Linked DNA regions of Homo sapiens: region 2 is linked to region 1. A link means that fine-mapping ties the variant in region 1 to the expression of a gene that starts in the linked region. Tissue or cell type: prefrontal cortex. Region 1 holds a variant in brackets; the other region holds the start of a gene. All regions are shown on one strand. Distances are between the middles of the regions.

Region 1 (5,000 bases):
TTCATGTTCTCTGGTCTATTCTCTAGTTCTGTTCTTTAGTCATGAAAGCAGACTTATCTTTCAATTAATTTTTGTACTGAAATCAGGGGCTCCATTGTCTATAGAATCAACCCTAAATTTTGGTTTCTACGTCCTTCGTGTTCAGTTTCTACCTTAGCAGTTCACCTTTTTTACCACTGCCTCCTGACATGCAGGCATCTGACACACATACATGCATCTGTGTTGTGCTCAGGCTGGACTCCTCCCAGTTCACGCTCCCTTGCCTCCAGAGCTTGACCTAAAAAGTCCTCTAACCTCATTAGTGCTTCATTTAAATACTGGCAAAACCTCAGAGCAGGGTTTTTGTGGCACATGTGTGAGCACCAATGAAGAGGGGATTATAAAATTCCCTCTACTAGATGGAGACAGAATCCCGAGGGGGCGATGGGCAGAACAATCTTCCCTTGAAAGAAAAGAAGTAGAGAGTCATTAAGTTAAGGTCTCTCTAGGAAAGAAGGAAGGGGAAGTTAAGGTAAGAGAAGGACAGAGCTGGTCCCATTTACTACGTCAATTTCACAGATTCAAGTATCAGCTAGAGGCTGGATTCTGTTCTGGGTGTTGGGGTCGGTCTAGGAGTAGGCAAAATGAAGACAGGCAAGCTCAGGGCAATCTGAGTAATAGTACATTCAGTGCTTGAGGATGTGGGAAGTGGGTGGGGTGCAGTGGAAAACAATCATTTGCTAGGAGAGCATACAGGAGGGTCACAAGGAACTCGAGAGGTAGGAAGTGGAGCAGCGGAGACGGAAGCTTCTTAGAGGGCTTTTCTATTTTTCTTTTTATTTTTTAGACACCTGTCTCTGTAACCCAGGCTAGAGCGAGCACAGTGGTGCAATCCTAGCTCACTGCAGCCTTGAACTCCTGGGCTCAAGTGATCCTCAGCCTCCTGAGTAGCTGGGACTACAGGCACATGCTACTGTGCCAGGATAATTTTTTAATTATTTTATGTAGAGGCGGAGCCTCGCTTTCTTGCCCAGGCTGGTCTTGAACTTCTGGCTTCAAAAGATCCCTAGAAGATGTTTCAGAAGCAGAAATAGGAGAGAGAAGAACGTATTTGTACCAGACCCTCTGCCCAGAACATTCCTTCTCCAAGCAACCTCCAGTTTCTGCAATGCAGAACCACACATAGAAGGGATTAGGGGCTAATGTGACAAACAAGACCCTTGAAAGCCACTTTAAGTTTAGCCTTTATCCTGAGGACAATGGGAAGCATTACAAGTTTTCACCAGAACATGCTTGAATTTGCTGTTTAGAAAGGTCAGGGTGATTGCTGTATGAGGGTGGTCGGAGGAAAACGCTGTCCATAGTGAAATAATCAAAGACAAGCCTGCACGGAAGACAGATGATCTAGAAGCTGCATCCCCAAAAGGATTATCTATTTCCTTAGCTGTTTCCTCTTCTGGGGCCCTCTACCCCTTTCACTTACTATCAGGGAAGCTCCCAGCAGTTCATCAGGGATGATACATTAAATGATGCTTTATGCTGCTGTAATGAAATTCAGACACAGATGAAGAAAACACCAAAGCTTTATCAAAAACAGGCTTTTTTGATTAGCCACTAGGGTAAGAGCTTAGGGAAAAATGAAACCTGCTTTCCAGAAGCCATATAGTAAGTGCTATGAGCCATACCACTGCACCTGTGAGACCAGCTCGTAATTAAAATTGTGAGAGTGTGTGACCTCCCTGCTAGGCACTGGAAATGTTGTAGGTGCAGGATAAATAGTTGGGATTAACAGTAGCAGTTATGCCTTTTCACCAAGGTGATGACCAAACCCAGAAGGCTGACAGCCGAGTATAGAAGCTAACAACAGTCTTGCCTAGTCTGACTTCTAAGCTTTCGCTGTCTCATCTGTAAAGTAAGGATAGTAGGAGCTCCCTCACTGGGCTGTTGTAAGGACTAGGTGATACGAAGCATGCAAGCACAGTTGGTGTCCAACCTGGGGCAATTGCTGCAGATAGAAGCTGCTACGAGTCTTACGTATTTAGCATCAGCCCAGCCACTCTTCGGAGACCACATCTTCCCTTCTCCAACTAGCCCAAGAGCAAGATGAGAGAGTGGGGCAAGGTCTCCACTGGCACCAACGGTTCCTTTCTCTGGGACATAGGGCAGGCAGGAGGCTGGGAGAGAAGTAGGCAGCAATTAGTTCAAGAGTACTGCATTCTGACTCTCCTTGCTTTGCCAGTGAGTGCCCCCACTGCCCCCGCAAACACCCTGCCTCCAATATCTATCACTTTATGGCATAGATACCTGGGGAAAGACAATTCTTCAAACCCAGCTAATATGTAAGGGACCTGGATGAATTGTTATAGAAAGAAAAAGAGGAGTGGGGGTGGAGAGGAAGAAGAGAGAAAGGTAAAGAGGAGACAGGGAGGAAAGGAGGGCTGGAGGGAAAGTCAGCAAGAAGGAAAGAAGGGCCAGGCGCAGTGGCTCAAGCCTGTAATCCCAGCACTTTGGGAGGCCGAGGCGGGCATATCA[C/G]TTGAGCCCAGGAGTTCAAGACCAGCCTGGGCAACACGGTGAAACCCTGTCTCTGCAAAACATACAAAAATTAGCCAAGTATGGTGGTGCATGCCTGTAGTCCCAACTACTGGGAAGGCTGAGATGGGAGAATCACTTGAACCCGTGAGGTGGAGGTTGCAGTGAGCCGAGATTGTGCCACTGCACTCCAGCCTGGGTGACAAAGCAGGATCCTGTCTCCTAAATAAATAAGAAGAAGGAAGGAGGACACTTCTGGATGCAAAGCCCTCAAAATCTGTGTGCTCTAATTCAACCTAGTACTTCCACTTGTAGAAATTTTAGCAATATATCTTGAAGAAGTGATCAGGAACTAGCTGTTTTTTTTTGTTTTTGTTTTTGTTTTACAGTTCATTGTTTATTATAGGAAAAATAGTTAGAAATTATCTAAATATGAAATTAAAGGACATTCATTTGACCAAGTTTAGCCATTCACAGCTATTGGAAAATGTTTGGAAACATTGGAAAAGTAATATAAAATGTTCCAGAAGGAGGTGGTGCACCAAAGCATTAACAAGGTTTCCCAGGGGAAGAGAAGTCATAGGCAACTGAGTCTTTTCATTTTGCCAGTCACCCAGTCTACACTCCACTGCCCCTTATCAATGAACACGTGCCATTTTCTAAGAAATTCCCAAAAAGTTACCAAAAAAGAGGCTTCATTTTTCTGAAATAAAATCAGATTCCTGACAGCAGCATTTTTTCCAACTGTTAAATAATGTCAGTCGGGTATGGCAGTGCCATCCACAGACCAACTTCTGGCTGATAGTTCACGCTGGGGAATTCTCAGAGGTGCCTTAGACTCCCCCATAAAGTACAGGTGGGTTTAAGGTTGGAGTGCTACTATCTGGGATTTTAGGGCTATATAGTATGGCAGACCAAGGTAGGAGTAAAAATAGGTGTTGGAATCACTACTAGTCTGTTCAGCACAGCCCTGTATATACAATAGACTGCTCATTGAAATTGCTCTCCACTCATTGGCAGATCCTATTCACGTGCCACTTGCGTCCATAACATGGAAACTCAAGAATGTGTTTTGCTGTTTGTGACTGCCTCAGCACTGCTTCTCCTCCCTCTCCTTCCCCTCAAAGAGTTCTGAGTCTCCACTGACCTAGAAGGCTTGTCCTTACCTGTGAGAAGGGACAATACCTCCAATCACTGCAAATCTGGTTTCCACATTAGAATTTTCCTATCCAAGAAGAAAGCTCCAGAGTTGAGTTCCCTCATATCCTGCCACTACATGGCTTCTTGATTACAAGGGAGTCATTAACCTCTTTGCATTTCTGTTCTACCCTTGCAAGAAGTTGGATTTTAGTGTGCAAGTCTGGCCATCACCTGGGGGACATTACGATTTCAGATTCCCAGGCACCAACCAGAACTACTGAATTGGCCTTTGGGATGGACATTGATATCATGCAATTTTTCTAACCATATTCATGTACCACTTAATCCAAGTTTCTTCTAGGCAGGCTTGAATGTAAGGGCAGACTTAAGAGTCCTGTTCTAGTCTTGAAGATGACAAATGCTAGGGAAAGGGTCTTGCAGAATAAGTTAAAGTTCATAGGAGTAAGCATCTCTGATCGACTTTCTCCTCTTCCCCCATCTAACTATCCTACTTTTTGCCAACGGCATTTCCCACTCATTTCAATTATTTCATGTCTTCTCAGGTGATTCCTCAGCATCTGGCCAATCAATTCTACCCTGTGGTACATGTCCAGCCTCCACAGAGGTTCCGTCTAGGGAGCCATTGCATTACCATTAAACATTTCTATGACTTGTTTGAGGGTCTCCAGGGAAATGCCACTGTATCCTTTGGCTAAGACATTGATCCTTAAAGCCAAGAGCATCCGACACCTCTCAGGACTTAGTGGTTTCCCAACACCTGCAAAACAGAATTGATGTTTTCTCCAAGAAAAGCAAACTCCTTTTTGTCTCCTGACAATTGCCCTCCCTCCCTCCAATCTTTCCCATATGTAGCCCAGCCTGCTATTACCTTCTCCTCTCGGCTCAGGTAGTTGGACTACTCTCCCTCCTGCCTGTCTGACTTGTCTGAGCCCCATCTTCCTGACAAAGGTTAAGACCCCAGTTTTGCCTTCTCAATTCCCCTTTTTGGGAAGCTTCAGTGAACCCCTGACCTCCCACTCACCTTTAGAATAGCATCCAGAGTCCTTAGCACAACTTCTTTACCATCTGATGGGTGCTGATTGGTGACAGTCTTTCCCATCTCACTATGCCCATCCTAACTCATTCTTTGAGTTCCAGGCTTTATTTCCTTCCCTGAATGCAACAGTGTCTCCATGGCATGGGACATGTGTTCTCATACCAACCCCATCCCTCCACCTGGCCCATTTCTTTTTCTGAGGCTCAGCTGATTCTTTCTGCATCCCTTCTCACCTCGGCACCTAGTTCTTGAAATGCTGTTTTGAGAAACTAGCTTTTTGTGACTATAACTGGAT
Region 2 (5,204 bases), 47 kb before region 1:
TCACCTTGACCTTTAAGGCACTGCTGGCGTCAGGCTATTTAGTATGGACGCTTCTGTTGACATTTCTGACTGCCCCTTTTGCGAAGTGAAAAAAAACAAACAAACAAACAAAAAAAAAAACTGGAGGTCAAGAGGAAGGAAGGATGGGTTAAGGAGTCAGCATATACAAGTCAGATAATGTGAAAAGTATTTTATAAGAGCTGCTATCGGGATGTTGGTTATTACCAAGGAAAAATGTGTCATCCTTATCCATCTATAACTACTGAACAGTAACTAAGGAAAGAAATTCACTCATCCTTTCTGCTTTTGCAAACCTCCTGTTTGCAGGAGCTTATCAGGTAATGTTGTCTGTCTGGACTGTGAATCAGATGCACAGTTCACCCACAAACATAAATACCTATGAAAAAGAAATATAATTTCTTTTAGACTCACCCAGAACTTGCAAGCTTTAAGTACATGGTCTGTGAAGTCAGGAGAGGAACTATACTATTGGCTGAAATCTAATCTTTAACTTAATTGGCCAGGAAGACAAATAGCAGGATTAAAACACACGAATAATAGTAATAATACCTATTACTTGTTTAGAGCTGGGCACTGGGCTAAGTGATTTATGTTTTATTTTATTTAAAACTCAGACAAGCCCATAAAGTAGAAACAGCTCTCCCTATGATGAGGATGAGAAAACGAGGCTTCGAGAAATTACTGTAAAGAAATTCCCCAAGGTCAAACAGCTTATAGGAAACAGAACTCAGACTAAGACAAGTTTATTGAACCCTATTTTTCTATAATTTTAACCCATCCTTTATACATACAATTGCATAGTTCTGCAAATATGCCTAAAATTGCAAAATGTAACTGATTAAAGTCTTCAGCAGAAATTTTATAATAGAAAATTTTAATATTTCTCTGTGAATTAGTGACTTTATGTGTTTCTATTCCCCACTATTTCTACTTCTCTTTTTAAAGACATAGAAATATATGTATGTATAAACTTTTTAAAAGCTATGCACACACACACACAAACAACCTGTTTGTGATTGTGTATATGAGCTGTGAATAATCTTCTGATGCCCCCTCCCCCCCACCCTTAGGGTCTCTTTCACTCACATTGTCTATATATTTTCCAATTTTTATCTTTCTCTTTCCTAACTGATCTCTCTTTTATAGGCCATAATATGAAGCTAAATTATATTCTTATTTATCGTGGTCATCTAAAGGAGTGTTTGCTTTCTGTTCCAGGTTTTTTTAATGAGACTAAATTAACTTTTATATTTTGTGGGTTTGCAGGCTTAGTCTGCTTTTATAGTATATTATTTGTGTCCACATCTATCACTTTTATTGTAAAGTCTTTACTGGGCAGGGAAAGCGCCTTTCCTATCTTTGTATGTTCCACAAGACTTAACACAGAGCTTGTGATAAACATGAATAAACGAAATCAAGTAATTAAGGACTCAAAAGCCTGGGCCTGGCAGTGTTTCCATAGCAATTGGTAGCAGGAAGCGACGAGGCTGAGAATCACAGACCATCTTCCATAAACTTGATTCTGTCTCCAATTTTGGTCGCAAGTTGCTTGTAGGCCCACCAGACACAGCTGAGGGGTGGGAGGGGGCATGCGGAGGGGCGGACACTGAGCTGAAACCTATTTTACCTCAGCGAGTTTGGATCCAGGAGCCTTTCCAACCTATCGTTCGGGAAGGCGTTGTGGGAAAAGTGGGCGGAGGTGCCAATCGATCCTCCAGTCTCGGCTCTATCCTCCCCCAGCCCGGTTCCCGGTCATCTCAGGGACCGTCTGGTAGCTGATCCCGGAACGCAGCTGGCCAACGGATAAGTGCGGGGCACCCGCCACCCGCGCGGACCCAGGAGCACCTCCCCTACCGCATCCCCCTCCTCCCCACCCCCAGGTTCCCTCGGCTCGCGGCCCTCCGCGTCCCGGGCTCCCGCCCCAGAACCTGTGGGCAGATGTTTCCTCCACGCAGTACCCTCCCGGGGCTCTGCCTCCAGGCTCGCGTCCCAGCACCCTAGGCAGAGGTTTCCCCCACTCTGTCCTCTCCCGGGGCTCTACCTCCAAGCTCCCGTCCCTGCCCCTGGGCACAGCTTTCCCCTACTCTGCCCTCTCCAGGAGCGCTATCTCCAGGCTCCCACCCCAACCCCCCGGGCAGAGGTTTCCCCCATGGCCCCCCTTCCGGGGCTCTACCCCAGGTTCCGGTCCCTCACTCCCGAACACTCCGGGTGCCCTCACCCAGCCAACCCTTGACGCGCTTCCACATACCACGTGATCCACACAGCTCACTTTGATCTCTCGGGGTGACCAAGCTTAAGTTTCCTTATCTGAAAAGTAGGGACACTAGTCTCCATCTCGTTTACTCGGGATGGGACAAGACGACCAAAAAAGAGAGGATTCCTCATCAGGTTTATTACTCGTTGCCATTCTTGCAATGATTACCGCCCCCGTTGCTGTGGTTGGGGGAGGCGAGCAAAGGGCAGCGGCTGCGAGCGCCCGCCCCCGCCCCACCCTCCCAGCCCCGGACAGCGCAGGCTGCGGCTTTTCGTCCTCCACTGAGTCCTGCCGGTGGCCCGAGCCCGGTGGCCTCCCGGCGACCCTCGGCGCGAGGCGACATGGCAAGCGGCCACAGCCTCCTGCTGGAGAACGCGCAGCAAGTGGTGCTGGTGTGCGCCCGCGGCGAGCGCTTCCTGGCGCGGGATGCGCTGCGCAGCCTGGCGGTGCTGGAAGGCGCCAGCCTGGTGGTGGGCAAGTAAGTGGCCGGGCGCGCAGGGTGGGGACCGCCACGGGCGGAGCTGGCCGCTCTTCCTCTCACTGTGCACTCTGGAGGGAAACAACGCCGTGAAAGCGTCCCTGCACAGAGATACACGGGCAAGCCAGCCTTTGGGGTACCTGTTGCTAACACGCTCTGCTGCTTGGGGTTGTCATTCCGTCCAAAGAGCTCAGAGAGGAACACCCCATTGGAACGCATCAGGGTCCTGCCTCTGCTGGTAAAATATCACTGTCCAACCATCAGAAGGGGTTGAGGTCCTCCCCAGTGCTTCTTAAAGGGAGGCCAGAAGACCACCTTTGTCAGGGTGGCCTGTGGTTATTTTATTCTTACGGCAGATTTCTGATTCCACCTGCGTCCCCCACTCCCTATCCCTAGAATTTTAGAATCAGCATCACTGGGGCTGGAGTTCTGAGACCTGAATTTTTCAAAAGTACCTTTCACATCCTCGTGATCTCGTACACTAAAGCTTTAGAACCACGGAGAACATTTAGACGATAATGGCCCTGAGTGATAATAAATCAAGATTTGACCATCAGAAAACAAGATATTTCTCTTACTCATCTGAGCTTCCTGCCAGATATGAATAAAAGAACAAAGTTTGAGGGCGACCTGGGGTAGCAAGGGAAGTTGGATGAGAATTTGAATCCAAAGCGTGCCATGGGACCACAATTGCACACGATCAATGAGTCTCACAAACTGACCACGGCTTATCTGAGGCAGTTTAGGGTTGTGCAAGAGCCCAGCTTTTAAGGGACTGTGGGTTGGTTTAATTTTATTTATTTATTTATTTATTTATTTATTTATTTATTTATTTATTTTTGAGACGCATGAGCCACTGCGCCCAGCCTATTTTTTGTTTTTTTGAGACAGGGTCTAGCTCTGTTGCCCAGGTTGGAGTGCAGTGGCATGATCTTGGCTCCACCTCCCAGGCTCAACTGCGATCTCCACCTCCCAGGCTCAAGCCATCCTCCCACCTCAGCTTGACAAGCAGCTGGGACTACAGGTGCACGCCACCACGCCAGGCTAATTTTTGTATTTTTTGTAGAGACAATGTCTCACTGTGTTGCCCAGGCTGGTCTTGAACTCCTGGGCTCAAGCCATCCACCTGGTTTGGCCTCCCAGTGCTGAGATTACAGGCGTGAACCACCACGCCCAGCTTGACTGGTTTATTTTTAATTAAGGGATGAAAACATTCCCAATTTACTATGAAAATATTATTTAAAATTTTGCTTAGAAAGTTGAAAAATATGTACCTGGGTTGGGACTGGAGTATCTTATAAAAATTATATCAATGCGACCAGGCACAGTGACTCACGCCTGCAATCCCAGCACTTTGGGAAGCTGAGGCAGGTGGATCACCTGAGGTTGGGAGCTCGAGATCAGCCTGGCCAACATGATGAAACCCCATCTCTACTAAAAATACAAACATTAGCCGGGCATGGCGGCGCACGTCTGTAATCCCAGCTACTCGGGAGGCTGAGGCAGGAGAATCGCTTGAACCCGGGAGGCGGAGGTTGCAGTGAGCTGAGATCTCGCCACTGCACTCCAGCCTGGGTGACAGAGCGAGACTCTGTCTCAAAAATAAATAAATAAATACATAAATAAAATGATACTAATGCACCAACATGAAGTCCTGGGTTCCAAGACATGTTCTATGTTCACATCAAAACCACAAAAAGTAGGGAAAGGAAAAGGAGGGAGCTGACTTGTGGTCTGGAAGATGGGGCTTTTTCATTTGAGTCTGCTACATTGTTCTCACAGTTTGTTGGATTTATTACAATGAAATAAATTTACAAGAATATTGAGAACTTTGCCATTCAAATATGATTAGCTCGGTACAGGATGGTGTTGTTTTTATTTTCACTTACTATCATCACTGTCTTATATATTAGGTTGGTGCAAAAATCAAGTATAGAATTGGAATAATTATCTGGTTATTTGAGATGCTTTGAAATATATCTCCCACCTCATTATCTGAATGTTTTAAGGTAAAAGTGTTTTCAGGGTGAATTATTTAGGTGATTGTCTTAAATTTTCACATCACTTCCCTTATGCAGAACCTGTGTGTTCAAGGACAACTTAATCCTGCTCTTCTTTTGGTAGACAAGAAGAACACAGGCTGTGAGTGTGAGTGTGTATAGGGAGAGGGGTACTGATTAAAAGCACAGAGAAGTGGAAGAAAGTTCCATTTCAAAGCCCAGAATTGGATGGATTTTAACAGTGTGTGTTTTTTTTTTTCCCAACAAGTATATACATACCATGGTGTGTCCTGATTAGAATGAATCTCAGTAAGATCAACTAATAGTTAATCCCCTATATGCTATAGATATATAAAATGAGTCCTGGAAAAGAATATGGTTTGAGGGACACCAGAAACTCCCCCTTCCTAAAAATAAATATCTCAGTGATTGTCTGCCATAGGGTGTAAAT

What was found. PIP is the estimated chance that this variant, and not a neighbour inherited with it, causes the effect.
Region 2: AMDHD1 starts here. The variant in region 1 is fine-mapped to the expression of AMDHD1 in prefrontal cortex (CommonMind, PIP 0.92).

The regions. Positions count from the first base shown.
Region 1 is chr12:95,988,380-95,993,379 of GRCh38, forward strand. It overlaps HAL (histidine ammonia-lyase), which reads right to left. Exons shown (of 21, transcript NM_002108.4): 9 at 4,301-4,426; 10 at 2,014-2,153. Among named protein-coding and RNA genes, the nearest start is that of HAL, 5.5 kb to the right of the region's middle. The variant C/G (reference allele first, on the strand shown) is at 2,512.
Region 2 is chr12:95,940,783-95,945,986 of GRCh38, forward strand. AMDHD1 (amidohydrolase domain containing 1) reads left to right here and starts at 2,549. Exons shown (of 9, transcript NM_152435.3): 1 at 2,549-2,753. The coding sequence starts at 2,617. It overlaps CCDC38 (coiled-coil domain containing 38), which reads right to left and starts at 1,832. Exons shown (of 16, transcript NM_182496.3): 1 at 1,649-1,832.